Homo sapiens: one gene and its partners. The protein of the gene in region 1 purifies or fractionates together with the protein of each later gene. This does not show direct contact. Each region holds a gene or a part of one and is shown in the gene's direction. Other genes may lie near its edges. The genes, in order: SMAD9, PSG9 and DSG4.

Region 1 (10,438 bases):
TATAATGCAGAACTGCCTCAAGTGCTACTTAGGACCTGACAAAGAAACTCCCAGCAGCTATGTCAGTAACGTTTCCTAGATTCAGAGTCATGCACACGAGGCCCTGAGCAGCCCTGGAAGCTGTGAGTTCTGTTCTTTAAAAGTTTCACAATTAGACCCCAAATATATAAGTATATTCTGGATTGTTTCTACAAACACCTTATAACTGCATAGTGATCATATGTATAATCACATTGACTTCTAGTGCTGGAGACTTTTTTTTCCCCATCAAAAGTGGGAGTAAAATTGTTCTGATATTTAATATTCACTAGACTAGAATTTCTTCATTTTTTTCTAACATCAGTCCCTCGCTATACATTTATATTAAATCTCAAACCCAGACATTTAGAGGGAAAGGATCAACTAAAATTTAATTTGGAATGGAAATTAGCATGAGCAGCAACATTCTCAGGATGCTTTTCTTTTTTTTTTTTTTTTTTTTTTTTGAGATGGACTCTCACTCAGTCGCCCAGTCTGGAGTGCAGTAGTGGCGTGATCTTCGCTCACTGCAGCCTCCGCCTCCCAAGTAGCTGGGATTACAAGCGTGTGTCCCCATGTCCACTTAATTTTTGTATTTTTTAGTAGAGACAGGGTTTCACCATGTTGGCCAGGCCAGACTTGAGCTCCTGATCTCAAGTGATTCACCTACCTTGACCTCCTAAAGTGCTGGGATTGCAGGTGTGAGCACCCAGCCTCAAGATGCTCTTTTGAACTTTAATTCCAAGAATATTAGATAAAGTGATGTAGGCTATATTTTGCTTATGAGTTTTTATATTACTGTATCTGAAAATGTAGAAATTTCACTTCACAAATCAAAATAGACATTATTTATATGATTTATATTAGTGGATGACAAATTTAATTGAAATAGATCTCTGAGGTATTTGTTAAGAGAAACAGATTTATAAGTATTGGTAAATTTTTTAAGTGTCTTTTATTGTTTCCTCTGAGGTAGGTTTAATATGTGCACTTAAGTTACATTTTCATGATATTAACTGTGTCCAGTTTTAAATTTTAAAATTTGTGGGCTGGGTGCAGTGGCTCATGCCTGTAATCCCAGCACTTTGGGAGGCCGAGGCGGGTGGATTACTTGAGGTTGGGAGTTTGAGACTAGCCTGGCCTGGCCAACATGGTGAAACCCCGTCTCTACTAAAAAACAAAAATTAGCCAGCTGTGTTGGCGGGCACCTGTAATCCTAGCTACTCAGGAGGCTGAGACAGGAGAATCACCTGAGCCCGGGAGGCAGAGGTTGCAGTGAGCTGAAATCGTGCCACTGCACTCCAGCCTAGGCGACAGAGCGAGACTCCGTCTCAAAAAAAAAAAAATAAAATTTGTGTATGTACAATGAAGGATTACTTGATTTTTTTGTGTGATATATTCACTTCATTTCTAATATTATAAAACCTTATTTTTGGAACAAATAAACAGGAATGATGGGAGGAATAGTATATGAGACCTTACTGACTGGTTCTTGGGAGTGATTGTTAACATGGGTTGCAATCCACTTTTATTTTTTTATTTTTATTTATTTATTTTTTTGAGATGACATCTTGCTCTGTCACCCAGGCTGGAGTTCAGTGGCGCTACCTTGGCTCACTGCAACCTCTGCCTCCCAGGTTCAAGCAATTCTCCTGCCTGAGCCTCCCGAGTAGCTGGGATTACAGGTGCCCACCACCATGCCTGGTTAATTTTTGTATTTTTAGTAGAGAAGGGGTTTCACTGTGTTGGCCAGGCTAGTCTTGAACTCCCGACCTCAAATGATCTGCCCACGTCGGGCTTCCAAAGTGCTGGGATTACAGGCGTGAGCCACCGCACCCAGCTGCGATCCACTTTTAAATGGATTTGTGGAAAAAGCACAGATTATCATTAAACTAAGCGGCATTTAGGTCACACATCTCATTCATCTGATCAGTGATCTGACAACCTGATGGGAGAGTCACATCTCCTAGGGTTTCAGGAATCAGTGGGAGAGGCACGCTATGAAAGGGCATGTGAAGGAAGGCTGTGTTTTTGTGTCTGCAGGTGTGCACTTGTACTACGTCGGGGGAGAGGTGTATGCCGAGTGCGTGAGTGACAGCAGCATCTTTGTGCAGAGCCGGAACTGCAACTATCAACACGGCTTCCACCCAGCTACCGTCTGCAAGATCCCCAGCGGCTGCAGCCTCAAGGTCTTCAACAACCAGCTCTTCGCTCAGCTCCTGGCCCAGTCAGTTCACCACGGCTTTGAAGTCGTGTATGAACTGACCAAGATGTGTACTATCCGGATGAGTTTTGTTAAGGTAAGGAGTGCTTGCTATCACGTTATAAAATGTTCAGTGAAAAACAAAACAAAAAAGCACCCTGACTGATGTGGCAGGCAGTTGTGCGGTCAATTCTGATAGACAAAACCAATTTATTATTATTATTATTTTTTGAGACGGAGTTTCACTCTGTCACACAGGCTGGAGTGCAGTGGCATGATCTTGGCTCACTGCAACCTCTGCCTCCCGGGTTCAAGCGATTTTCCTACCTCAGCCTCCCGGGTAGCTGGGACTACAGGCACGCACCACCACGCTTGGCTGATTTCTGTATTTTTAGTAGAGACAGGGTTTCACCATATTGGCCAGAGTGGTCTTGAACTCCTGACCTTGTGATCCTCCCATCTTGGCCTCCCAAAGTGCTGGGATTACAGGCGTGAGCCACCGCGCCCAGCCCAAAACCAATTTTTTTGAATTCTATTGTTTTTAGGAGGAGTTCCTCTTTGAGTATAAACTGTCTTGTTTAGCAATTATATGAAAATTGTTACACATTACTTTTGAGGAAAAACAAGGTGGCTATTTGATTGTTTTTAATGCAGATGATAAAGTAACAACAGTAATTTTACAGGACTAGTGCAACAGAGATTTTTTCCATCCTTCCAATTGCCAAGCACTGTTATCACTCAGTGAATGTTGGTGAATTTATCTGAATTCAGTAAGATACTCTCCTTACTCTTAGAAAGCATACAGGCACATGGAGGAGATAATATTTATGAATAAGCTACAAAAATAGGCAGGGTTGGTTCTAATACAAGATAATAAACTAAGTAGTGTTATAAAGGTATAAACAATTTGGAATAGAAACGGGTGTGATTAATTCAGAGAGCAGTATATGTTCTGTTGATGAATATTTGTTGAATTTCTCATATCGAATCTTATTAAGGTTGCTATGAAGGCTGGAGAACCAAGGAAGTTTCTTAGTGGGAAGGAAAGACAACTGGGTTTGTATATGGAAGTGAAAGCCTTCAGTTTCATCACCTGCTATTTTGTCTGTTGCAAAGTACTCGCAAATGAGTCTAGTATTTCAAAATATGGGCTTATCAAAGTATCGGGGTATGTGTGACAGTTTTCTTACTGCCATGATTCCATCCAGGGAATCAGCATGGCTTGTTCCAGGCATTTTTTTCAAAGTAAATTTTATTAGCACTTTAAAATTACCATGACAAATAATTTTTCTATACTCAAATTATGTTTTTATTATCACTTTAGTAATTATTTAAAAAGTAAGAACAATATAGTTTCCAATTTTAAAAAACAGCTGCTTGAAATTATTTCTCTTTCATGGTGACAAAGCAGTTTCATTCAAATTTAGTGTTTTGAAAGCATATATTATAAAGTTATATTAACAAATAACTTCGAAATCTTTTCAAATGTTCTGTTGCTTTAGAAACGGCAGAGGGCATCATTTGAATCATACAGTTTTTTTTTTTTCCGGGTCTGTGTTTTTAAAATTAGGATGAAATGCCAATATCTCATAGGTAATTATTTCACTCTGATTAAATATAAGCTTATATAGAAATCTGATTTTCCTAATAACTAGATACATTTCTCAGATAGGCAGCATTTACATTCATAAAGCTACACAATTGACACAGAAGACAAACTGTTCCTAATACTGCAGGAACTTTTAAAATAAATACATAGTAAATATAACTATAGATCATTTTTTTTTAACATTTGAGATGAGCAGCTGTAGCTACCACTGGGCTGATGGATCAGATCTCTTTAAGGTTTCTTTCAGCTCTGATTTTTACTGATTCTAGGACTTAGTCAGTCAACAAATGTTTATTGAGCACCTGCCATGTGCAGGCCAGGCACGTGGGACATGCCAATGTTTACTCACAGATCTCTGACCTCAGGGAACCAATATTCTAGGAAGGAGAGATGGATAATAAACAACAGCCAAAACACAGAAGAAGGATGGAAAGAGAAAGTCTGGGGGCAGGGTGAAGGGAATTGGAGCACGGGGGCAGTGGAGTCATCTGCACATGAGGGTGGGCCTCATTGAAAAGGTGACAGGTCAGCAGAGACTGGAAGGAGACATGGAGCTAGGCCCAGGGACCCCTGGAGGAAGAGCAGAAGAAGAGGGAAGAGCAAGGCAACAGCATACACCTGGAAACTCTGAAGAGCAGGCAGGCCAGTGTGGCTGGGGCCTAATGAGCAGGGGAAGTGAGATGAGAGCAGCCGCAGGGAACCATAGCAAGGCCTCCTGAACCTCTGCTACGAGTTCAGCGGTGACTGTAAGGAGGTGGCGAGCTTTTGCAGGGATCAGAGCAGAGCATTTTCATGATCTAACTTCTATTCTTAAAGGATCGCCCTGCCTGCTGTGTGGAGGATAGATATTATACAGGCAAGGTTGCAAGTAGGGAAACCACTTAGGAGGCTATAGTAATAGTCAGGTGAGAGTCGCCCCCACCTGGAGGGATCCAGTACAGCTGTGAGAAGTGGAAGGATTCTGAATTGTGAAGGCGGATCAGGCGTGGGAGAAAAAGAGGAAGATGAAGTTAGTTGCCTTCAATCAAGATGGAGAAGACGCAGGTGTAATTGAGATGTCCGTTGCATTCAAGTGGAGTTGCTGAGTAGCCAGTTCGATATAAGAGTCTGGATTCGGGGAGAGAGGTTTGGGCTTGAAATACAAATTTGGGAATTGTCTGCAAAGGGACCGTATTTAACTCCCTAAGTGTGGATGAGAACACCAAAGGTTTGAGTTTAAACTGAGAAGAGCCGGGCGTGGTGGCTCATGCCTGTAATCCCAGCACTTTGGGAGGCTAAGGTGGGTGGATTGCTTGAGGTCAGGAGTTCAAGACTAGCCTGGCCAACATGGCAAAACCCCATCTCTACTAAAAATACAAAAATTAGCCAGGCGTGGTGGCGCGTGCCTGTAATCTCAGCACTTGGGAGGCTTAGGCAGGAGAATCGCTTGAACCTCGGAGGCAGAGGTTGCAGTGAGCTGAGATCGCACCATTGCACTCCAGCCTGGGTGACAGAGCCAGACTCCATCTCAAAAAAATTAAAATAAATAAATAAGAAAGGGGGCTCTAGGACTGAGCCCTGGGACACTTCAACATTTAAAGATGGGACAGAAGGGACAGAATCAGCAAAGAAAACTGAGAAAGACCAACCAGTGAGGTAGTAATAAGACCAAGAAGTGTGGTGCTTTGGAAGCCGAGAAAAGACAGTGCATTGATGAGAGGATGTGATGAACTAAATCAAATGCTGCCCACATAACACAAAGGCTGAGAGCTGATCATTCATTTTAACAATATGAAGGCCTTTTTTGATCTTGACAAGAAAAGTTTTGTTGGCGGCTGGGGTGAGATGATGATCAGAATGGATTTAAGAGAGAATGGAAGGAGACAAATTGAGATGGCTAGTATGGATGACTCTTCTGAGGGTTTTTGCCAGAAATGGGATAAAAACATAGGGCAGTAGCTGGTGGGGGGTGGAGAAGTATCTTGAAGGTGGAAGACATTTCAGTGTGTTCATATGTTGACGGGAATGATATAGTAGACGCAAAAGATTGCAGGAGAGAAGGGGAAGATTTGCTGGAATGATGTCTCTGGGAAGGCAGGTCTGAGAGTGCATTAATGGGTGGACCAGCTTATTTGGAAACACAAATAATTAATCTGTGGTAAGAGGTAGAAAGGCCAAGTATGTGGATGCAGGTCCTGTGGAAACTTATTTCTGATGTATTCATTTTTCTCATTAAAATACAAAATAAATATCAGTTGCAGGTATGGACAGGGAAAAAGGGGTTGCAGGTTTTAGTGGGGAGGAGCGATCACCTAGGAGGGGGACATGAGAGAAGGGACTGGGGGGTGGGTTGTGACTGCCGGGGACATCACAGGTCCACTTGAGGTTCTCAGTCATGAAAGTAAAATGTGATCAGGCAGCATGGTTGTGTTGAAATCCAAGTTTTAAAAAACTCTACAGAGAATCACTGCTCCCAGTCACAGAACTGATTTACTTGGCTGTGATCTCCCTTCATTTTTAAATATCCTTTCATTGATATATAACATATAGAGAAAAATATGCAAATTAAAAAAAAAAATTTTAACTGTCTCTCCTTTGAATGGTGATAAAAGGGAAATTGCCAGTTGAACTAGAGAGAGAGAGAGAGAGAGAATAAGCAAGCTTTGATAATGAGCCCTGAAAAACCAAGAGCGCCTTCCAGTTCTGTCTTTACCACTTTCAGGTCCAGTCACTGGTCTGCAGTAACCATTTTGTGCAAGACACTGTCCTGGGCATGAAGGGGTGAACAAAAGGTCAAGTTTCTTCCTTTGTGGAAGGGAAAATGATTTTTCAGTGCTTCCCGTGTGACTGGAGTGCCAGAACCTCTCTAGATCCGAGTATTCAGTTGTGAACCCTGAGGGAATGCACTGATTTGGATTCATCTGAAGGCATCTGGTTGGTGTGAGAGTTGACCTGTGTTTACAGGAAGGTAGAGGCCATGTTCTCTCCCTCTCAGGTCTCAGGAGCTACGCTGGGGTGTGGGCTCTGTGCCCCGCTGAGCTCTGCCTGGGGCTCTGGAGGCTGAGTGTAAGTGTGGCACCATCACTCAGCTCCTTTCTTGTTTTTCAGGGTTGGGGTGCTGAGTATCATCGCCAGGATGTCACCAGCACCCCCTGCTGGATTGAGATTCATCTTCATGGGCCACTGCAGTGGCTGGACAAAGTTCTGACTCAGATGGGCTCTCCACATAACCCCATTTCTTCAGTGTCTTAACAGTCATGTCTTAAGCTGCATTTCCATAGGATAGAGGCTATTGCAGGGAGTGGCTTGTATCATTTCAGATTTGCAACTGAAGTTTCTAAAAACATGTGTAAATACATAGAATGTATACTGTTCTTATTTTTTTTAATCACCGTTTGTTTTGTGCTTTCTAGTTAACCTGATGCCAGTACAGTGCAATTGGAAAAGCAGGACTTTGGTGCCTGTGCTATAAGCAGCAGATTTTGTGGGAGGAAACACTTGAGAGGCGATATTGTCAACAGTATTTGAAGGGTGTTAGCAGAATAAAAGACAGCTTTAGTCAGCCGTGTCATTATAAAGCATGTTGTGTGGCCTCACAGAAACATTGAAACTGTTTATACAGCAAAAGTCAGGTATTAGCAGCACTAAAGCAAATATCACTCAGATGAAACAAAGCAGTGAAACCCCTACAGTTTAAATGATGTCACTTTTAGTGCTGTTGGCAAGAAAAAAAAAACAACAAACTTGTACAATGAATTAATGAGATAGGCCATAGAAACTTTATTTCTAAGGTTGACATACCTATAGCTGGGCTCCTGTGCTCATATTCAGTGGTACATTTTAAACAAACTGTGATCGGAAAAGAAAAAAAACTGTGAAGCCAAAAGTCATGTTCCCTCAGTCTACCACTGTAAAAACAGAGTCTAATATGGGAAAATAAATATGAAAATAGCATGAAATGCTGTTTCCCAGATTGCAAGATAAGACCAGAACTTGGTCCAAGAGCCAGCCACCCAGGGAGACTCCTGCTTTCCACAGAGGAGACCAGGTTCCTGTCGTGCTGGTTGTTCGTGTCAGGCAGTCCTGCAAACTTTGAGTCTGCGCAGCGTGCCAGAATAGCTTGTGTTTCAGTCCTGTGTCAAGAAGCAGGTGAAACCAAAGGTTGGAGAAAAGCATCACACGTCGACTTACACTTTCTCATTTCCCACGTTCCAGTCTCCTGGGAAGGGCACTCTTTCGCCACGTTTTCCTGCCTCTTGGCAAATATTAACTCTTTGCAGATCACTAAAGCAACAGTAAAGACTTTGAGAAAATCTAGACACATTATTGGATCAATGAGTTATTTAACCTAGTGTCTAGTGATTATCTAACCTGGAAATAAATTCCCAAGGAAAGTGATAATAATTTCATAATCATCTGCAATTTCTGGGGAACAGTGGTACTGAATAATAAGACATCTTTTAAAAATATACACAATATTAAAAACCTGTTCTTATTTTACTTTAGATGAGGGAGGAAAATCCCCCAAATTTCTAGGTACTTTCATATATATACTTGCCATGCACTAAACACTGCATTGCTTGGAAAAATATTTCACACCCTCTTTAAAAATGTACAATTTAAGATGGCAGTTATGCTTGTAACAGACAGCACTTCAGTAATCCAAGAAGTTTCTTCATTTATACATTTTATCTCAACTCTTTCTAGCATTAGTGCACATGGTAGTTTTTCTAATTAAATTGTATTCAAGGTAGAAATGATCATGTGAGAAAGATATATGATTGAGCTACTACTGTCACCTCTTACAGTTACTAGTGTTAGCTAATAGAAACTTTCATATATACACATAGAAAAGAATTATTACATTTTACATTGAAAAATGTAATATATGGCCCATGTAGTGTATAGAAAAATCTGTAGTTTATTGGTTCATCAACTATGTATTGTGCACCTACCTATGGGTGTCAGGTACAATGTTAGGTACTGTAGAATCAAATGTAAATAAGAGACAGTCCCAGCCCTCAGGGAGCCGAGAACCTAATAGTGAATCTGTTTGTACAGACATCTTCATGTTTCAGAACTTTTAAAACAAAACAAAATAATGTAATCTATCATCTTTTGCTTGAAAGAATGTGATTGATTTCTTATCTCTGTTTTGAAATTATTTCCTTACTCTTCTGCAAAGTCAGGTAATGGATTCCTTGTATAAATGCTACTTTTCTTCCATGTCTCAAAGTTGTTTTTTTTCCTCCCCTTTCTTCCCTGTTTTCCAATAATTCTCCATGTCCCCTTTTCTTAGAAAAGGCATTAATATGGTGAATCTTGTATGGGAACCATTCCATGGGAGAACTTCAACACAGTTTTTGCTCCAGAGATCAAACATAGCTTTCGTGATCTCTCTACCAGCTATCTAACTTATCCTCTGGTAATCTTTTTTTTTTTTTTTTTTTTTTTGAGATGGAGTCTCGCTGTGTCACCAGGCCAGAGTGCAGTGGCGTGATCTTGGCTCACTGCAACCTCTGCCTCCCGGGTTCGAGTGATTCTCCTGCCTCAGCCTCCCAAGTAGTTGGGACTACAGGCTACCACGCCCAGCTAATTTTTATATTTTTAGTAGAGACGGGGTTTCACCATGGTAGCCAGAATGGTCTCTATCTCTTGACCTTGTGATCCGCCCGCCTCAGCCTCCCAAAGTGCTGGGATTACAGGCGTGAGCCACTGCGCCCGGCTTCCTCTGGTAATCTTACACCTTTACAGAATTAATCTAAACTGGTGGCTCATAAATGACATTAAAAACAAAAAAAAAATCTGGATGCAGTGGCTCATTCCTATAGTCCCAGCACTTTGGGAGGCCAAGGCGGGAGGATCATCTGAGCCCAGGAGTTTGGGGCTGTAGTGAACTATGATCATACAACTTCATTCTAGCCTGGGTGACAAAGTGACACCCTGTCTCTAAACAAAAATCAAGAAACAAAAAACTTGTATTTCCCTGCAGCTTTGGGAAGCCAGAACACAATATTGCAGTGAATCTGAATTTTCTGTGACAAATAAATTATTAAATTGGCACATATGATCATCACCAGTCATGTCTCATCAAAAGCCTTTATTATGATGCTTGTACATTTTGAAGAATTTAGAATTAATGAGAAGTTAACCCTTTAGTCATTGTAACACAATCATATTTTAATCAGCTTTTTCTTTTGCTACCAAGAGTTTCAAAAAATAAATGCAGTATTTGATTTCAGGCTGCTAAATGGGCTCATTTAGCATTCATTCCTTGATGTAGACATTAAAAAAAAAACTGAATAGCATTCTTTCCAGGATAACTAATAAAGCAGACATGCTAAGCCTATAAATACATCAGCACTGCAGCACACGTTTAAGGTTGCCACGGACAAGGATCACACAATAGAGAACACTGTAGTAACATTTCGGTCTGCTCACAAGACCCAGAACATTGATCAGTTTTTGTTGTTGGTTTATTATTTTTCTGTTAAAAAATTGTGAAAAGTTTGTTTTAGCTAGATGATATTTTAATAGCTGCGAGTGCTTTGGAACTATAAAGATGTCACTACTTAACACATATACCTTATGTTTTGTTTTGTTTTGTTTTACACTCAGTATAAATCAGG
Region 2 (10,187 bases), on another chromosome or scaffold:
TTCACTCTTTCTAGATCATTCTTTAGACTATACACTAACAATGAACAATCTGAAAGGAAGTTAAGGAAAGGATTTCAATTCACATTAACATCAAAAGGAATAAAATATTTTGGAATAAGTTTAACCAAAAAGGTCAAATGATTATACCCTGAAAACTACAAAACATTGCTGAAAGAAATTAAAGATGATATCAATATATGGAAAGACATTTCATTTTCATGGATTGGAAGAATCAATATTGTTAGAAAGACAATACTACCCAATTGAGTTGCAGATTCAATGCAACCCCTACCAGAATCCCAGTAACATTTTTTGCAGAATTAGAAAACTCTGTCCTAAATCTGACCTGACAGGATCTTATTAATGACTGCCACAACACAAACACTGAGAAAAAGATGCAACCAGAAAAGGTGGAAAGTTCTGATGACAAAGAAAATAGCAATCAGCCTTTCTCACATCCCAAAGCTTTAAAAAATATATGAGTGCAGCATGGCCAGTATGGAATTGACCAAAAACTAATCATCAAGCTAGAAAAGTGGTGAGAGAAAAAAAAAGGGCAAGAATATCTTTGGCTTATCACCTCCCACTTTTGCCTACTAATCTGATGCTGAAAAGAAATGCTCACTGAAGCATTTTAGATTTTGAATCTTTCAGATTTGGGATGCTAAACCAGTAAGTATATGACAAATATTTCAGAATAAAAAAATGTCAGAAATCCAAAACACTTTTTGTCCTAAGACTTATGCATAAGAAATACTCAATCTGTGTGAACTATAGGCATCAAGCTCTACAGCAGATCTCTAGAACCTCCCCACCTTGCATAACTGAAACTGCACACCCATGAACAATTTCTGATTCTCCCCACTCCCAGCTCCTGGCAACCAGCAGTCTCTTCTCATATTCACTCTGGAATCCACTTACATGAGGTCCCTAGAGTAGTCGAACCCAGGGGATCAGAGAGTAGAATGTCCAATGAAAGAAAATATTTGCAAAACTTCTCTCCAAGTTTGTCTCATATCCATCAAACACACATGGTCCATGAGGACCAGATTTCCAGCAGTTCATTCCCACACTTTCCACCAGTCAGTTCTGCATTTGCAAATGTCCACATGTATTTCTGGAAAGATCCACATGGTCCTCCTCTGCCCTCTGCAGAAGGAGAGGAAACTTAAAGAACCCAGGACAGAGAACATGGTTCTGCTCCAAAGCCACCAGCTCTTGCCTGTCGCCTTCACTCTTTCTAGATCATTCCTTGCACTCTGCTCTATGTTTAGAGGTCACTGGTTCAAGTAAGTCATCATGAAACACCTGCAAAAAACTGCCCCACCTTGAGCCTCCACTGCCTGATGACTGAACTGACCTCCAGGCTTGACTCTGGTCTCCTCTGTGTTATTTCTGCTGAAACATCCAGTCCCAGGCCAGGCTGCTAAGTATCTTCAGGGTCTCAGGACAATGGGAAGTCCCATTATTACTCATCTCTAGAACATCCTTAGAAATGGAAGCTGCAGAGAAATCACATATAGGGGGGCAAAGTAGGATGGAATTTGGAAGGGGCCCAGCAGTTGCACATTCCAGGTAAGGAACCCAAGGTGAGCCAGCCAGTCAACTGATTAGGGAGGGACTGGGAGGGGTACCAGGGGCTGTGACTCCCACTGATGTGTCTGTCCATGACCCAACACTGCTGCTCAATTGACACTTGAGAAAGTCTGTGCTTCCCTAAGACAGAGCAGGCGGCCTCACAGTCTTTGAGCCCTTAGATCATCATGCATCTGTCTTGTGACACACGCACCAGCTATTGGCTTTCAAGGACTCGGGTGGGCTGAGAGGTGGGAGATGCCAACTCTGATTGAAGTATGCCTGTGGAGGAATCAAAGGTGCCACACAGGACAATCTTCTCTCTGTTATCCACACAGCGAAGCTGCCCATCCCCTACATCACCATCAACAACTTAAACCCCAGGGAGAATAAGGATGTCTTAGCCTTCACCTGTGAACCTAAGAGTGAGAACTACACCTACATTTGGTGGCTAAACGGTCAGAGCCTCCCCGTCAGTCCCGGGGTAAAGCGACCCATTGAAAACAGGATACTCATTCTACCCAGTGTCACGAGAAATGAAACAGGACCCTATCAATGTGAAATACGGGACCGATATGGTGGCCTCCGCAGTAACCCAGTCATCCTAAATGTCCTCTGTGAGTATCTTTTGTTCCTCTGTGGGCCAGGACACCAGCTTAAGTCCAAACGACCAGATGCCAGGCCTCTCAGTCTCTCTCCGGTCCAAGTATAGACACCTTTACTTCTAGACATCCGAGGTGGCCATGACTCCCTGCCCTGGGAAAACCTGGGTAGGCACAGCCTTAACCAAGAATATAAGGGGAGTGGATGCTCTTGTCATGGGAGACTTGGGGCCCACAGCTTGTGATGGGAGAAACAGGTGAATACCTCAGGCTTCAGCTCAGTGAACATAGAGGGACTTTGGCTGGGACTTGAGGGTGTGTCTTGGCTCAGAGGGTCACTGTGTCCCTTTAAGAGACCAGGAACATCCCCTTCCCTCGAATGACATCACGTGTGGCTTTATTCTCTTTCCTCCAGATGGTCCAGACCTCCCCAGAATTTACCCTTCATTCACCTATTACCGTTCAGGAGAAAACCTCGACTTGTCCTGCTTCACGGAATCTAACCCACCGGCAGAGTATTTTTGGACAATTAATGGGAAGTTTCAGCAATCAGGACAAAAGCTCTTTATCCCCCAAATTACTAGAAATCATAGCGGGCTCTATGCTTGCTCTGTTCATAACTCAGCCACTGGCAAGGAAATCTCCAAATCCATGACAGTCAAAGTCTCTGGTAAGTGGATCCCAGCATCCTTGGCAGTAGGGTTTTATGTGGAGTCTATCTGGCTTTCAGAGAAGAGTCAGGAAAACATTTTTATTCCCAGCCTGTGTCCCATGGGCACAAGCAAATCCCAAATTCTCCTCCTGAACCCTCCCAATTTGTCTCTACAGACTCTCTTCTCCTTGTTTTTCTGTTTTCTTATGGCTGACCTTGTGTCTGGCCTGAAAAAGGTAGGGAGGGGGCTTTATCAGCCCTGAGCCCTATGTGGTAGAAGAGGCTTCAGAGAGGGACAAGAAGGAGAGTCCTCAAGATCAAGTTGCTTCTCGCTGTCACCGACACATCCCCTTCTGCCACGTCTTTTTTTTCTTGTACCTATTCCATGAGCTACAAGGGACAGCTGAGGCTTTGAAACAAGCTCACACTTTTCCCCCAGATGAGAGGAGGAAGCCCCTTGGGTGAGGGAGGAGCAGCTCAGACTCTGCTTCCTGCTCTGCTCCGGGCTCCTCTGGTGACTGGCCCTGCCTCACTCAACCTGGGGTGGGACTAGCGTGTGTGTAGAAAGGGCCCTGGTGGCCTGTCCTGAATTTGGCTAAATTGAGCTGCCAGTTGAAGCCAAGCCTCCCCCGGGCCAGGCTGCAGGGAAATAAGAAGAGAGGGAGCCTCAGGGCAGACTCCTGAGCTGCGTCCTGGCTCTGAAGTCACCAGCTGTATGAGGCTTTGGGCACAGCACGTGGGACACAGCACGGAGGACAGTGACTGATGCAGAGCTGGAGGAATAGGGAGATTCACCGTTGGGGTTATTCATGGCAGGAAAGGGGCAGTGCCAAAAAGTGTGTAATTATAGAGAGGGTAAGACTACCAGACACTTTATATATATCTAATATAAGACTTACCATTAACTATTTCTATGTGTGCAATTTAGTGTTGTGTAACCATCACACTATCCATTTCCAGAACTTTTTCCTCTTACCATATTAAACCTCTGTACCCAATAAACAGTAACTCTCACTCCTTCTTCCCCTAACCCTTAGCACCCATCATTCTACTTTGTCTCTATGTAACTGGCTATTCTAACTATCTTTTATAAATGGAATTACATAATAATTATCCTTTTGTGTCTGGTTTATTTCAGTTAGCATAATATCTTCAAGGTTCATCCATTTTGCATGATGTATTGGAATTTTATTCCTTGTTAAGGTTGAATAACATTTCAATGTATAGATACACCTCATTTGCCTACCCACTTATCTTTCAATGGACTTTTCAGTTGTTTCCATTTTTTCGCTAGTGTGAGTAATGCTTCTCTGAACATCAGTGTACAAATATTTGTTCAAATTTCTTTCAATTCTATGGGGAGTATGTCCAGAAGTGGAATTGCTGGATCAAATGGTAATTTATTGTTTAATTTTTTGAGAAACAGCCACACCACTTTTTACAGTGGCTATAACATTTCCCATTCCCATCAGCAATGCACTAGAGCTCCAATTTTTCCATCTACTTGCAAACACCTGTTGTTTTGTGTTGTTGTCATTGTTGTTGTTTATCAAAGCCATCCTAAATTGTGTGAGGTGGTGTAGCATTGTGGGTTTGATTTGCATATCTCCAGGTATTCGTGATGCTGAGGAACTTTGCATGGGCTTATTGGATATTTGTATATCTCCCTTGGATAAAACTCTATTTTAATCCTTTGTTCATTTTTTAATTGGGTTTTTGGATGTTTGTTGTTGTTGACTTGTAGCTTTTCATGTATTCTGGAAATGAATTTCTTATCACACATATAATTTGCAAATATTTTTATCATTTCGTGGGTTGCCTTTTTACTTTCTTGATAATGTTCTTCGACATATAAAAGCTTTGATTTTTGTGAAGTCCGATTTATCCATTTTATTTGTTGCCTATGCTTTTGTTGTTACAACCAAGAAATCATTGGGAAATCCAGTATCATGAAGCTTTTCTTCTAAGAGTTGTGTAGTTTTTCTCTTACATTTAGATCTTTGATCTATTGTGGGTTAATTTTTGTACATGGTGTTAGGTAAAGGTTCCAATCTTCTTGCCCTTGGATATCCAGCTTTCCCAATATCCTTTGGTGAGAACACTGTCCCTTCCCCATTGTAAATGCTGAAATCAGGAAGTGTGAGTCCTCCAGCTTCATTCTTCCTCTTCAAAGCTGTGTGTCTATTTAGAGTCATGAGATACAATATAAATTTTAGGACAGATTTTTCTTTTTCTGCAAAAATGCCACTGAGAATCTGATAGGAATTGTATTGAATCTGCAGTCACTTTGGGTAGCACTGTTCTCCTAACAATATTGAGTCTTCCAATTCATGAAAACAAAATGTCTTTCAATTTATTGATGTCATCTTTCATTTCTTTCAGCAATATTTTGTAGATTTCAGGTATAATCATTTCACCTCTTTGATTAAACTTATTCCTAAATATTTTATTCTTTTTGATGTTAATATAAATTGAAATTTTTTTCTTAATTTCCCTTCAGATTGTTCATGGTTAGTGTATTGAAATACAACAGATGTTTGAATGTTGATTTTGTATTGTGCAACATTACTGAATTTATTTATTAATTCTAATTAGGTTTGTTCAATCTTTAGGATTTTCTACATATAAGTTCAAGTTATCTATAAACAGAAATAATTTTACTCCTTCCTTCCAATTTGAATGTCTTTTTTTCAATTCTTGCCTAATTTTTCTGACTAGACCTTTCAATACTACGTTGAATAAAAGTGTCAAAAGCAGGCATCCTTGTCTTGTTACTGCTCATACAGGGAAAGCTTTCAGTCTTTCTCCATTGAGTATGATGCTAGCATTGGGTTTTTCACATATTGCCTTTATGTTGAGGTGGTTTCCTTCCATTCTTAGGATGTTTTCATTATGAAAAAATATTGAATTCATCAAATGCTTTTATTGATTCAATCTTATTACTGATTATAGTTATACTCATATTTTTGTGTGGTTCTAGGAGTTGGTCCATTTCATCTAGGTTATCCAATTTATTGGCATACAATTATTTATAGTACTTTCATCATCATTATTTTATTAGAATTGGTAGTAATCGCTTCATTTTTCTTTCTTTCTTTCTTTTTTTTTTTTTTTGGAAGAGAGAGAGACAGGCTCTCACTCTGTAGGCCAGCCCAGGATGGAATACAGTGGTGTGATTACGGCTCACTGCAGCCTTAACCTCCTGGGCTCAAGCAATTCTCCTTCTTCAGCCTCCCAAGATGCTAGGACTACAGGTGCATGTCACCATGCCCAGCTAATTTTTTTTTATTTTTTTGTAGAGACAGCATCTCCCCAGGTTACCTATGCTGGTCCAAACACCTGGTCTCAAGAAATCCTTCTGCTGTGACCTCCCAAAGTGCTAGGATTAAAACATGACCCACCATGCTCAGAGTCCATTTTCATTTCTGATTTGAGTAATTTTAAACTTTTCTCTTTTTTTCTTAGTCAATCTAGTTAATGGTTGTCAATTTTGTTGATTTTATTTTGAAGAATCAACTTTTGGTTTCATTAATTTCCTCTATTCTGTTTCCATTCTCCATTTTATGTATATCCACTCTAATCTTTATTATTTCCCTCATTCACTGTGCTTGGGTTTAGTTTGTTCTTCTTTCATATCCTGAAGTATTAAAGTAGGTTGTTGACCTGAGATCTTTCTTCTTTTTTAATGTAAGAGTTTACAGTTATAAATTTCTTGCACAAGACTCAACTTCTCTGAACCTCTGATTCCTTACCTGAAAATTGCAATGAGAGTACTTTCTTCTTACCATTGTTTTAAAGGTTTAATGCAGTCAATGAAACAATATGCCACACACAGCGGAACCAATGTCAGCTGCTATATTACTACCATCATCATTAGCCTTGAGGTCAAATAGTCCTAGAATCAAATCTCAGATCCACCTGTCACTAGCCATATGACACCAGGAAAGTTTTTACACCATGCTAAGCTTCTGTCTTTTCATCGGCAAAATGGAAATAATGTCTATGTGACAGGGTTATTGTGTGGCTTAAATGAGATACAGGTAAAGTATTGAGCACAGGGCCTGGCACATAGGAAGTGCACCTCAACAGTACCTACCTTTTTCCATATATATGGAAAAAGAGGTAACACATAAAACACTAGGACATGGTTACTGACTACTTGTGGGAGAGAAAAAAAAAGCTAAGGGCAAAGAATCAAGTCTGGTATGTTAGTTTTTACCAACTGAGATGCATCCAAGATGGGATTAGACATACAAGGTAATTTATCAGGGAAGACACCTGTGAGGGAATGTGGAGCAGGCATGAAGGTAGTATGGGAGAACCCACAGAACACTATGCAGAGCTGATTCCTGTGAAAAAGAAAGAGAAAGAAGTTTTAGGTACCAATGCAGTTCTAAGAGTATTTGCAAGGCTGATGGGGAATCCTCCAACCAGCCACCCATTAGAGTTAAATAGAGCCTCAGAGAACTAGGCTTGCTTTCACACCCTTCCTGGGAGCCTGTAGGAAAGAAGCTTTCTGTGTAAAGGAGGTAGTGAATTTGAAATGCACTGACCTGGGCCTTCTGTCAATCAGGTCCCTGCCATGGAGACCTGACAGAGTCTCAGTCATGACTGCAACAACTGAGACACTGAGAAAAAGAACAGGCTGATACCTTCATGAAATTCAAGACAAAGAAGAAAAAAACTCAATGTTATTGGACTAAATAATCAAAAGGATAATGTTTTCATAATTTTTTATTGGAAAATGTGCTGATTCTTTGAATGTTTTATTCTCCAGATTTATGAACTTTTTTTCTTCAGCAATTGGTAAAGTATACTTTTGTAAACAAAAATTGAAATATTTGCTTTTGCTGTCTATCTGAATGCCCCAGAATTGTGAAACTATTCATGAGTATTCATAGGTTTATGGTAATAAAGTTATTTGCACATGTTCCGTAAGAATCTGCTCTCTTTATAACAGGACACATTTGAAAACATTGGTTATATTACCAAGGCTTTGACTGGGATGTTATATTTGAGAATATACATAGAATAAACCCATAGGGAATGCAGGCAAAGTCTGAAGTGGGCCTTGGTTTGGCTTCCTAGTCTCAAGAGGTTTTTGGAAGTTTCATCTGAGATTCTTATTAAAAACTTCTAGCAAAGAGAAGTTTAAAAAGAGCCTCTATGGTCCATTGCTACTCTTGCCGCACTTAGGTAAAAAATCTGGGCAAGTTCGGTGAGACTCAACCTATTTTGCAAGCAAATTCATCTTATTGGAATTATCTTTGGTAAAAATAGAGACTCCGATAGAGAGAAAAACTAGCTGAAAAGAAAAACTGTAGTACACCTGTTACCAGATTGAACCACTGTTCATTATCTTTGAGTATTTATAATCCACTGGTAGACTGGACTGGACCCTGAATTCTTTTAGTTCTTCCAATTCAGTTTTCTCCAATGAAATCATTAAGAACAAGAGCGGCTCTGTTCCTGAAGCCATATAAGGTGGAGGTGGACAACTCAATGTAAATTTCATGGGAAAACCCTCGTGTTTGAGGTGGGGGCCACTAAGAGCTCACCAAATGTTCAACACCATAACTTAGAGACACTCAAACTGCAAACCACGACAAGCTGATGACTTTACACTGTGGACAGCTTTTCTCAAGATGTCAGAACAAGACTATCAGTCATGATGAGACTCTTACCTCTCTTAATTTGTCTTTGCTTTTGCCTGTCTCCTTTGCTTCCCAGAATAATGCTGTACTTAGGATTTCACCAGAAATAGCCTCTGAGAGTAAGTTAACAGTGTCAGATATATCATGTCAACCACACTTCGTTTTTTTTTTTTTAAGATGGAGTTTCGCTCTTGTTGCCCATGCTGGAGTGCAATGGCACAATCTTGGCTCACAGCAACCTCCACCTCCTGGGTTCAAGTGATTCTCCTGCTTCAGCCTCCCCAGTAGCTGGGATTACAGGCATGCACCACCATGCCCAGCTAATTTTGTATTTTCAGTAGAGACAGGATTTCTCCATGTTGGTCAGGCTGTTCTCGAACTCCTGACCTCAGATGATCTGCATGCCTCAGCCTCCCAAAGTGCTGGGATTACAGGCATGAGCCACCGCACCCAGCCCACACATTTTTACATAACAAGACATCCTTTAGTCCACACAAAGGCTGACGTTAGCTGCATCTGTAACACAACTTTTTCCTCAAATGTATGGAGTTTTTTTTAGGCTTCCACTTCTATACTTGCCTATTCTCACTCCCTGTTTTAATTTAACATAGACATGCAATGCTAGATAATAGAATTGTTCTCTACCAGCTGGACAGCGGGGAGTCTGTGCAGTTTCTGACACTTCTTGTTGCACATGGATAAATACATCGGGTATTATAGAGACTCAGTTGTAAAAATCAATAAATGTGCTGCCTGGTTAAAATGACTAGACTCTTCTGGCTTCTTCTTTGATCTATCCTATTGTAGTTGGTTTGCATCTTGCCTAAGGTGCATATTCCAAACTCTTGATATTTTCCTCCTGATAGTCATACTGGTATTCTCCCTCATGTGGTGGAATCTACAGATGTTTTTATTTCTGTGCAAATATTTGTGTGCAGCCATTCTTCAAATATCAAACGGTTTCTCTTGTGCTGGAATTACAAAAACTCAAAGAAATGTGTGATTTATGGGCTGGGTGCAGTGGCTCACATCTGTAATCCCAGCACTTTGGGAGGCCAAGGCAGGCAGATCACAAGGTCAGGAGTTCAAGATCAGCCTGATCAATATGGTGAAACCCTGTCTCTACTAAAAATACAAAAATTAGCCAGGCATGGTGGCGTGCACCTGCAGTCCTGTAGGGAGACCCCCAGAAACTACTGCTACAGAATAAAAGATGAAATGCTCTTGATTATTGTAAATACAAAATTGCACGCAGGATTGTGTAAACACAATGACAGGTTGGGCTGCGAGAATGAGCCTACAGCACGGGATGTGCTTCTGTTACATGGATGGGAGATAGAATTATGAGTTTAGAACATAGATTACAAATGCAACCTGATTGGAACACTTCTGATTTTTGTAAAACTCTGTTCCAATATAAAGAGTCTGGTCACAATCGGGAATCAGTAATATGCCATTTACAAGGAAGTGAAGATAATTTAAGTTTAGACATAAGCAAGCTGAAAGAACAGATTTTTGAAGCTTCTCAAGCACACTTAACTGCTTTACCCAGTGCTGAAGTTTTAGACAGTATCTCTGAGGGGTTATCTAATCTCAACCCCATTCAATAGGTAAAATCTTTGGGAGGATCCACTATCGTTAATTTTGTTCTGTGTATAATTTGTGCTGTTGGTTTATTGTTCATGTGTAAAATTGGAAAAAATG
Region 3 (10,438 bases), on another chromosome or scaffold:
GTAACCAAGCTATCTATCTATCCAGAGTTGTGAATTGGTGAAAACATTCTCTGTTCTTCAAATTCAATATCACTGTTTCTTCTAAATGCACCTTACAATATTAAATAAATGTCCTTTCTAAGTAAAATTGTTCTCACACTGTAAGACACCTGAACCATTTTTGCTTAAGGTGAAGGAATTTGACATTGAAAATGGCACTACAAAATGGCAAACAGTCAGAAGACAAAAGCGGGAGTGGATCAAGTTTGCCGCAGCCTGTCGAGAAGGAGAGGACAACTCGAAGAGGAACCCCATTGCCAAAGTAAGTGATGAAGCAATCTGATGACAAATGCTTTTGCAGAGCAGGGAAGCTTTCAAATATCTCCAAGATTTGCAGGCTTCACTGCTCCACAGTTATTTAAGAAGACAGAATGTGGTCATTTGCTCCAGTTGCTGAGCCACTGATTTGAATATCATGTGCAGGGAGGCTGACGTGGGGCAGGCAGTCAATGGCAAGTGATTCTAGAAGAAAGGGCTGGATCTCCAGCACAACTGGGCTTTGTTCATCCATTTGTGTACTGCTCATTATTGCCTGTCAATGTCATAGGAAACGTATTCACATAGTGACAGTCTGAAGCCTGGCCCTCCAGAAAGTCAAGCCAAGTTTACTGCACTAGATGAATTAACTCCAGGAAAGTAAGGATAGTATCAAAAGTTCCCACCAGATCTCTACATCCAGAAAATAAGAGAGTCTTATAAGACTTTCACAAATAATGCCTACTGAAAAGGAAGGAGAGTTAAAGAATGTGTAATAAATTGATCCAGGAAGGATGGGATCCACATTAATAGCTTCATTCACTCTTTCTGGACATCTTGATCCTGAACAGTAAAGTGATCTGCAGAATTCCCTCCTTCCAGCTTTATATTAAAAACATAGTAAGCATCAGCAGTGGTGTTACAGATACAACCTCAGCTCAAGAAAACAGATGTATTCTCTCTCAGATGTTTTCAAATTGGAGGGACGCTTTTAAATTATTATTTCCATTCAACTCAGTAATTGCTTTATGTTATTCCACTTATATTGCATATTCTTTTCTTTTTCTCTGCATTTTGGGAGGTTCTTGAGTTTTCTTCTATGTAAAAAGGGCCTTTGGATTAGAGTTAAGCTAACCAAAGTTCTATTTCCAGCAGTCTTTATTTGACTGTGAATGTGTGGGTAAAAAATCTTACTATTTTACTGAATGCTCTTATCGTTAGTATATAGGTGAGATTTCAAAATTGTTTCAGTTTAAATTTATCAGCAATAGGTAATAAAGCTACTAAAGCAAAATCTGTGTGGCAGAATATTTGCCATAAAATCTATTTGGCAGAAAAGTGATGCAGTATGTTTACATTTATAAAATTATTACAAATATCTCTAACCATTATAGTTTTCTGATATTCTCAACTTATCTACCATTTTGACTAAATCTCAGACTCCAGCTTAGGTAGGATACTTATTAATATGACACAAGTTATTTTTAAAAAATAGTAAATGTTGTAATTTCTTTTGTGAAGCTATTTCTGCGTATGCTAAAAAATCAGAGAATTGAACAATGTGTTATTAACAACAAACCTAGCACCAAGTGTGTATGTTATACACATTACCTCATGTAATTCCCACAACAAATCTGTGTGATATTATCCCCACTGTAAGCTGATCTGGGCAAAGTTAAGTAAATTTTCCAGGGTCACACAGGACTAAGTCATGGTGTCAGGTTTCAATCCAAAGCCCATTTGGTAAAGAAACCCACTCCCTTCTTATTCCACTACACTCTTAAGCATTATCTGCTCTAAACTGGATCACAATCCTAGCTATTTTTCTTATAGATTCGATCAGACTGCGAATCGAACCAGAAGATAACATACCGGATTTCTGGAGTAGGGATTGATCGACCACCATATGGGGTATTCACCATTAATCCTCGCACTGGGGAAATTAACATCACTTCAGTGGTAGACAGAGAAATAACTCCACTTTTCTTGGTAAGTCATAGCCATATGTTTTGATTTGTTCATATTAGTTTTCTTCCCTTTTTCAAAAAATATTATCTTAAGATAATGGATTACTTTTGATAAAACATGGCAGACTGAACCCAAATAGAAGACTTGAAGGAATGGAAAGAGTGTGAAAATAAAAGTTTATAGTTCAGGATTCTCTGGTATGTTGCATGTACATGTAGTCAAGTGTCCTGATCATATTTAAATTATTTGACTGTACTACAGTCTGAATTCACTGGAAAAAATTGTTTCTTTGCCTATTTTCTGATATATTTTCAAGCATGTTACTAAAATTCCTTTGGTGGAAAAAGATGGCTTTTTTCCAATTTTCCACAGATCTATTGCCGGGCTCTGAATTCACGGGGTGAAGATTTAGAAAGGCCTCTTGAGCTTAGAGTCAAAGTTATGGACATAAATGATAACGCTCCAGTCTTTTCGCAAAGTGTATACACAGCCAGCATTGAAGAAAATAGTGATGCCAGTAAGTAGAATGACATTCCTTCTCTACGTCACAGCATATCTACTTCTCTTGGTCAAAAGCTTTAGAGGACTGACATACAGGAAATGTAAAGGACAGAAAAAGCCACACTTGTATTTTGAATAAACCCCACATATTTTAATTTATAACTGAGCTAGAAAAAGAAATCATGTCTAAAATGATAAAATAAAATATCTTCTTACTTGCGGAAGGTCCCTACAGGGATTTAGCAGGTGCTTAGCACCTTGCTTAAAGATTGCTACTGGGCTCATGAAGAACTAAATCCAAGCGAGCAAACTGAGGAATAAACCAGGAATGTTTAAGAAGGCTCTGTTCTGGTCTCTTACTCAAAATGTTTGGCTGACCCACACCAGGTAGAGCGTGATGGTGGAAGCACACGCAATTGTACCCATCAGATCAATCACTAAGGGTAATCATTGATCTTCACAGACTACATAGCAAACTACATTCTATTCTCTCATTTTCTTTCATTTCTTTCCATTCCACTTAATTCCATTTCCAGTTCTAATACCCTCTGTCTTTCCTTTATATTAATTCTCCTGAACTTCTTTCCTTCCTACTCTTATGCTTTTCTTATATGGCTACTTTCCTATCTCTCCTCTCCCTTTGCCTTCTGACCTTGATTTTACATACAGCACATGAATATCAGTTTGTTCCCCAAACCCCTGTTGTCCCTTTCCCTTTCAAATCTATGTCTGCCCATATACCTCTAAACAAATTTGGGGGGAAATAATAGGAAAAATAAATTTCAGGAAAAAAGGCAGATAAACACAAAATTTTTTTTTGAACTAGGATAGTCCTCCCATAGAGAGGCAAAGAGATTTTGCCTAGGAGAGCCAACACAAAGAGAGACTCCGAAGTCCATCTTTGCTTCCTCATCAACACACCTCAAAACAACACTGGTGAAGGAAGAGAAGGTGAAACCCACAACCAAGTCTCCCTGCCTAGGAAGCAAAAGAACATCAGGGACCTGACAATTCTGAAAAGTCTGTCCTGTAGATTGACATCCTTGGGGATTTGCCTAAGATACCTGTTCTTTCTACCTATGAGTAATTAGGAACTTCTTATATTGCTATGGACAAGTCTTCTTTTCAATAATTATAAATTTGTGACTGTTTGGTAAAATGCTATCTTCCAATGCAACCAAGAGTAATTATCTGCTTTCTGGAAAAGTGGCAATTAAGAATATAGGTGTTCAATACATAATTATAATGTTGCATTTAATTAAACTATAATTTTCCTTAATTAAGCATTTTTAAATGATTTCACAAGACCATGGCAAAAAATAAAACAGATAAAAATCTGTTTATTCAGCTATATGATAAAGAATCTATTGAACTTCTTTTTCGTACTTTAAAGAGAACTATGTTTAGCCACTAATTTAGTATTTAATCATTTAAGGAGTGCAAGTACTTTTAAAACAGTAAAGGGTTTTATAAAGCAAACCACATTTTTTTTAATCACTGGTAGAGCTGAAAGTTATGGTACTATATTCCCATGGAAAACTCAAACAGAGAGAATTCAGGAGAAGGCCAACCACTCTGTCTTCTTATGCCTAATGATTTGCTGAATTTATTCTAAGAGTCCCAACCATTCTCCACCTCCATTTCTATTTCTAGATACATTGGTAGTAAAGTTATGTGCCACAGATGCAGATGAAGAAAATCATCTGAATTCTAAAATTGCCTACAAGATCGTCTCTCAGGAGCCATCAGGTGCACCCATGTTCATTCTGAATAGGTACACTGGAGAAGTCTGCACCATGTCCAGTTTCTTGGACAGAGAGGTAAAGCCTTCTGTGAATGAACAAGAACTAAAAAATTCAATTTTGAAAAGACAAAGATAAAATGATCCATGTGTACCCTTACTCCAATATAAAGGAGGGAAGAAAAATAATCCATTTTTAATAAAAATTAAAAGCTCAATTATATAAATTTCATTGGATATGTAAATAAAAGAGTAGAGAAATAATGGCATTGAATGCATTGGATTCTATTCAAGACAAAACCTAAGTCTTACGTTCTTTTTCATCTTGATTAAGCAACACAGTATGTACAACCTGGTTGTGAGAGGCTCAGATCGGGATGGAGCTGCAGATGGACTGTCTTCTGAGTGTGACTGTAGAATCAAGGTTTTAGACGTCAACGATAATTTCCCCACCTTAGAGAAAACTTCAGTAAGTTTGTATTCTTATCTTCCTTTTTCCATAAGTGTCAATAATCAATTTGCATAAGTGTCAATAATCAATCATGCTGGCTCATGAGCCTGGTTCTGTCCTATGTGTGGACATACTCAACTTTGTTATAGAAACTTTGGAATTTCTTATGTATACTAATATACCTTCAAATTGTATGTTTGTCTTTGACTCACTACTCCAAACAAGCCTTCTCTGTGAAAGCAACGAACTATCTATTCTGTATACTCTATTCACAGAAACACAGAAATCTGTTGATCTAACTCTGGGAATAACATAGCAACATTAATGTTTTTGTATATGCCTCATGATTTGCTGAATGAATTCTACTAGAGTCCCAGACAGTCTCAACTTCCATTTTCATCTCTAAGCATAAAGAAGCATAAAATCCACACTAGCAGGGCCAAATCTGGCTTGCTGTCTGTTTCGGTTTAAAAAAAAAAACAAAAAAACAAAACAAAAAACGTGTTATTGGAGAGCATAGCTGTCCTCATGCCTTTACATATTGTCTATGGGGGCTTTGTGCTGCAACAGCAGACGTGAGGGGTTGCAACACCAATTCTCTGGCCCACAATATCTAATATATTTACTATTCAGCCCTTTACAGAAAAAAATCTGGTCCTCTATCTAAAAGAAAAGAATAAATAAAGAAAATTAACAATAAGCAAAAATAAATAAATAAATAAAAGAGAAAGGAACAAAGTGCTAATTTGACCTTGATTTTACATACAGCACATGAATGTCAGTTTTATTATCTTATAATCATTTTATTCTTATTCTCCTGATTGGACTATGGGCATTTAATAATGGTGCAAAAATCATCGACATAGTTTGTTGTTAGTATTTTAAATAATAATAATGTGTTTTAAGTACGTTTCTTCTTTTGAAAATTCATTGACTACAAAATTGATCCTTGCATTTTAGTACTCAGCCAGTATTGAAGAGAATTGTTTAAGTTCGGAACTGATACGATTACAAGCAATTGATCTTGATGAAGAAGGCACTGATAACTGGTTGGCTCAATATTTAATTCTCTCTGGAAATGATGGGAATTGGTTCGATATTCAAACAGATCCACAAACCAATGAAGGCATTTTGAAAGTTGTCAAGGTACAGTATAAGGATCTGCAATATTTTCTTCCAAAATATTTTATTCCAAAGAAGTTTTAAATGACCTTAGAGACAGAATCTGCCTTTAAAAAAAAGTACTTCATAACTTTGAATATTGTTTATATCAAGGGTCCTAAGTAACTGCTATGTCAGTCTGAGTCTCCTAGCTAGCAACACAAAACTTATTACCAAGAAAAATATGAAGACTGTTTTGTTCTGACAGTGTCCAATATCTAGTTGTGAAGATAAGGTAAGCAACCCCAAATTAGAAGATATATGGGAGTTCACAGTGCAATAAATAATACAGATGTCATGATATAAAACATAATTAATTGCCAAGGGAGTGGAATATGAAATAATGAAAGAGATAAGAAATGGTGAGATCCTTCTGAGCTAGATTTGTCTGAAAAGATTTCATGCAGGAAATAAGGCTTAAGCAAGATGTTATAGCTAAGATTGCTAATGTGGGTAATAAAATAAACAAACACAGAGTGAGAAAACATGAAGCAAGTTCAGGGCATGGTGAGCAACCCCGTGGGGCTGTAGTGGGGCATCAAGTAGGGAAGTAATCAGAAGTCAGATCAGAGAAGTGAAGCTGAAATCGATCTGCTGAGAACCTTGCATACTGAAATACCGGCTTTGATTTTTTTCTATAGATTAATTTTTCTTTAATTACTTGCTTTTAATTCACAGACAATGATAAAACTGAAAAATTTATAATTAGAAACGAATAAAACCACAAACCAATAAGATTCAGATTAACATTACTGTAATGAGGGAAATTGTTATTTTTTAACAAAGGAAATTGCTGCTAACAACATAAACAACACTTATAGCCAGGAAAATATATATTAAGACATATATGTACACACATATTTTTAGCTTACTACACAGTGTGATTGTGGAATTTACAGTGTGATTATTCAGTTCTGTTACTATTTTTCTCTATTCAAGCACATAAGGCTCTTTTTGTGTTACCATAAAGTAATAGCTGAGACTGGGTAATTTATAAAGAAAAGAGGTTCAGTTGAATCACCATTTTGCAGGCCATACAGGAAGCAAAGTGCCAACATGTCCTTCCAGTGAGGGCCTCAGGAATCTTACAATCATTGTGGAAGGCAAAGGGGGAGCCAGTGCATCACATGACAAGGGCAGTAGCAGAAGAGAGAAGGGGGAGGTCCTAGACTCCTGTAAACAACCAGATCTCGCAAAAACTCATTTATCACCAAGGCTATGGTGGTAAACCATTCGTGAGGGATCTGCCCGATCACCCCTCACCAGGCCCCACCTCCAACTTTGGGAATCACATTTAAAGATGAGATTTGTGGGTGACAGACATCCAAACCATATCATCAAGTTACTGTGAAGTTTTTTCAGATAGCATATTAGGAAGCCATTTAGCCTTCTGGAAGCAAACATATCGTTTATTCATTGGGTCTTTCGCTTTTCTTTCTCAAGTATCTGAGCAATTTTAGTATTACTACTTTACCACCAAAGCACAACCATACACACTGAAATCATATGGTATATTAACTTAAGAGCTGGCCACCAAAATTATGAAAAATATTTATATATAAGATTGTCATCCAAATGAATACACACAATTTTATAATTTCTTAAGTGAACACAAGGACTCAAAGAGTATATCATGGACTTTCTGTTTGGAAAACATTGCTTTGGGCCAGAGGTCAGCAAACTATGATCCAGAGGTCCTCACCTGTCCCCTGTTTCATAAATAGTTTTATTGGAATACAACCACATACATTCATTTACGTATTTTCTGTGGCTGTTTCCACACTCAAGTTGCTGATATGAATACTTGAGATAGAAACTCTGTATGATATGACCCCTAAAACCTAGAACATTTACTATCTGGCCCTTAACCAAAAGTTTTTCAATTCCTACTTATAGACCAAGGAAAGCTTTGGGATATTTTCTAAAATAACAATAACACCGGCCTGGCAAAGTGGCTCACGTCTGTAATCCCAGCACTTTGGGAGGCCAAGGCGGGCAGATCACCTGAAGTCGGGAGTTTGAGACCAGCCTGACCAACATGGAGAAACCCCATCTCTACTAAAAATACAAAATTAGCCAGGTGTGGTGACACATGTCTGTAATCCCAACTACTCGGGAGGCTGAGGCAGGAGAATCGCTTGAACCCGGGAGGCGGAGGTTGCAGTGAGCTGAGATTGTGCCATTGCACTCCAGCCTCGGCAACAAAAGTGAAACTTAACAACATGAGTTCAACTCTGAAAAGACCACAGTTATAAAAATTATTATGATATTAATTAAGTTCTGAGGTACTAAGCATCTGATCTAAGGCAATGGCAGTAAAAATGGAAAAAAAAAAAAAAAGGAATGGGTATAGGAGACATTGCCAAATACAATACAAAGAGGAATAGAGGAACAAGAGGTCACCTCCCACCATATCAAATTCTGAATATTTAGTCAAGTTTTTCTTCCAGGGATCAGAATTTGTTAAACCTTGCATCCTGGTTAAAAATCAAGAGCTAGACATAACATGCAATTCTTACCTATGTTCTTATCATCTTAGTGACTAACTTTGTATATTATCTCATAATATGTAACTGCTCTTTGCTTTTGTTCTGTCTCCCAACCTACTAAAATAATAGAAGAATTTTGTGCATAAAGAACCTGATCTAAATATCTTTCTACCCCCAGCACCTGGTCCAGTGTCCAAAAGATAGTAGAGACTCACAAAATTTGAGAATAGTATTGATGATACTATTTACCTGAAACTAATGGCATAGATATCATCCAAACAGAAGTCACTGGACTTGATTGCATCATTCGTAACTTCTGCATACAATTATAAATATGAAAAAAATTAACAATGCAGGCAATGTACTATCTGACTTATGTAATGTGCCTTCTGTGATAACAACTTTTTTAAAGATATACTTAATTGCTAAAAAAAAAAAAAAGCTATTGAAATATCAATTTCATGAAAAATTTGTCAAGGTAATTTGGATGCTGTATATACAAAGCCCTATCTATTTTTTTCTGAATGATAACTTTCCAAATCTCTTAAAAAGAGTAAGAAAAAATGTGCTTAAAAATACCAAAGTAATGGAGAAAGGCTAATTAAAATGAAATTTTAAACCTTGATGTTTGTATTACTACCTAGCCAAAAGAACTATTTTAGAGAACATAAGCGTAATTTTCCCATGTTTGACATTTTCAACAGCTGGTGGTCAGCCTCTCATTCCAGATACATCTGGAATGAGGTTACTAATGTCCTCTTACACCTTCTCCATTTTCATTCGGGATACCCCTTAACCCTGAGGAAACTGGACTTTTGACTAAGCTTTATATAACCCTTCTCTTAGTCTGAGGAAATTACAAAGACTCAATTCAAAGGATTTAAGGTGGCTCGTGCCTGTAATCCCAGCACTTTGGGAGGCCAAGGCGGGAGGGTCACTTGAGTCCAGGAGTTCGAGACCAGCCTGGACAACGGGGTGAAACCAAGTCTCTAGCGAAAGATGGGTGTGGGGCGGTCACCTGTAATTCCAGTTACTTGGGAGGGCTGAGGCATGAAAATCACTTGAACGCGGACCAGGGAGGCAGAAGAAAAATAAGGATTTATTGAGAATTGCTATGTGTTAAGGACATGAAGGCAAATAAGATATGGTCCCTGTTCTCAAGGAATTTACAGTTTAACAAGAGAAAGATCTCAGAAAAATGAAAGTCTCTCTGTCAATAACAGCCTCTCCTTGGTATTTATTGATAAGTGTATATGAAAACGCAAGCAATAAAAAAGTGTGTGTGTATATATATATACATATTTGACTTCAACACTGAGAAAAAAGCAAAGCAAAATGCTACCCAATTGGAATTCTAACAAAAAAATTGATTCTCTATTTTTATAATAATTCTAACATTTATTAAGCAATTACTAAACACCAACTATTCTGTTATAAGGTGTATCCAGAGGGTTCACATATATTATCTCATTTAATCCTCACAACTCTCGGAAGAAAATAGGGTCATTGCTTTTTTTTTTTTTTTTTTTTTTTTTTTGAGACAGAGTCTCACTCTGTCACTCAGGCTGGAGTGCAGTGGTGTGATCATTGCAACTCCTCCTCCCAAGTTCAAGCAATTTCACGCATCAGCCTCCGGAGTAGCTGGGATTACAGGCATGCGCCACCACACCCGGCTAATGTTTGTATTTTCAGTAGAGACGGGGTTTCACCATTGCTGGCCAGGCTGGTCTCAAACTCCTGACCTCAAGTGATCTGCCCACCTCAGCTTCGCACAGTGCTGGGATTACATGTGTGAGCCACCGCACCCAGCCAGTAATTCCATTTTTAGAGAAAGTGAAACAAAATTGAAGAAGACAAATAGCTAGTCTCAATTTACCCAGGTGGTGAATGGCAAAGACAAGAACCAACTGGAACTTTCTGGTCCCAAAGTCATATTTAACTGCCACCTTCGTGTCTCACTGCGTAATTGGGGGCCAGTAAAACCGATTTTAGGAAAGAACTAGCATGCCGAGACTTTTCTTCCAAGTCTGTGTACCACTATAAACTCCTTCCCAGCTGTGTGTGCCCTGCTTCTCTCTTCCAGACACATTTGTACCAGGAAATGAGCCTTCC

The links.
Region 2: the proteins of SMAD9 (region 1) and PSG9 purify together in Homo sapiens (affinity purification with mass spectrometry; 3 studies listed by BioGRID and IntAct, with this or other methods). This does not show direct contact.
Region 3: the proteins of SMAD9 (region 1) and DSG4 purify together in Homo sapiens (affinity purification with mass spectrometry; 3 studies listed by BioGRID and IntAct, with this or other methods). This does not show direct contact.

What each region holds. Positions count from the first base shown.
Region 1 is NC_000013.11:36,845,299-36,855,736, reverse strand, and holds part of SMAD9 (mothers against decapentaplegic homolog 9), read left to right. Parts: intron 1-2,061; coding exon 2,062-2,318; intron 2,319-3,219; coding exon of another isoform or gene 3,220-3,399; exon of another isoform or gene 3,400-6,917; coding exon 6,918-7,061; 3' UTR 7,062-10,438. UniProt on the Homo sapiens protein: Transcriptional modulator activated by BMP (bone morphogenetic proteins) type 1 receptor kinase. SMAD9 is a receptor-regulated SMAD (R-SMAD).
Region 2 is NC_000019.10:43,250,862-43,261,048, reverse strand, and holds the end of PSG9 (pregnancy-specific beta-1-glycoprotein 9 isoform 1 precursor), read left to right. Parts: intron 1-1,913; coding exon 1,914-2,192; intron 2,193-2,592; coding exon 2,593-2,847; coding exon of another isoform or gene 2,848-3,092; exon of another isoform or gene 3,093-3,939; intron 3,940-6,128; coding exon of another isoform or gene 6,129-6,196; exon of another isoform or gene 6,197-7,365; intron 7,366-7,402; coding exon 7,403-7,440; 3' UTR 7,441-7,767; downstream 7,768-10,187. UniProt on the Homo sapiens protein: Binds to the small latent transforming growth factor-beta complex, consisting of the N-terminal TGFB1 latency-associated peptide (LAP) and the mature form of TGFB1, thereby leading to the activation of TGFB1.
Region 3 is NC_000018.10:31,386,519-31,396,956, forward strand, and holds part of DSG4 (desmoglein-4 isoform 2 preproprotein), read left to right. Parts: intron 1-169; coding exon 170-301; intron 302-1,848; coding exon 1,849-2,004; intron 2,005-2,355; coding exon 2,356-2,500; intron 2,501-4,137; coding exon 4,138-4,304; intron 4,305-4,559; coding exon 4,560-4,694; intron 4,695-5,636; coding exon 5,637-5,822; intron 5,823-10,438.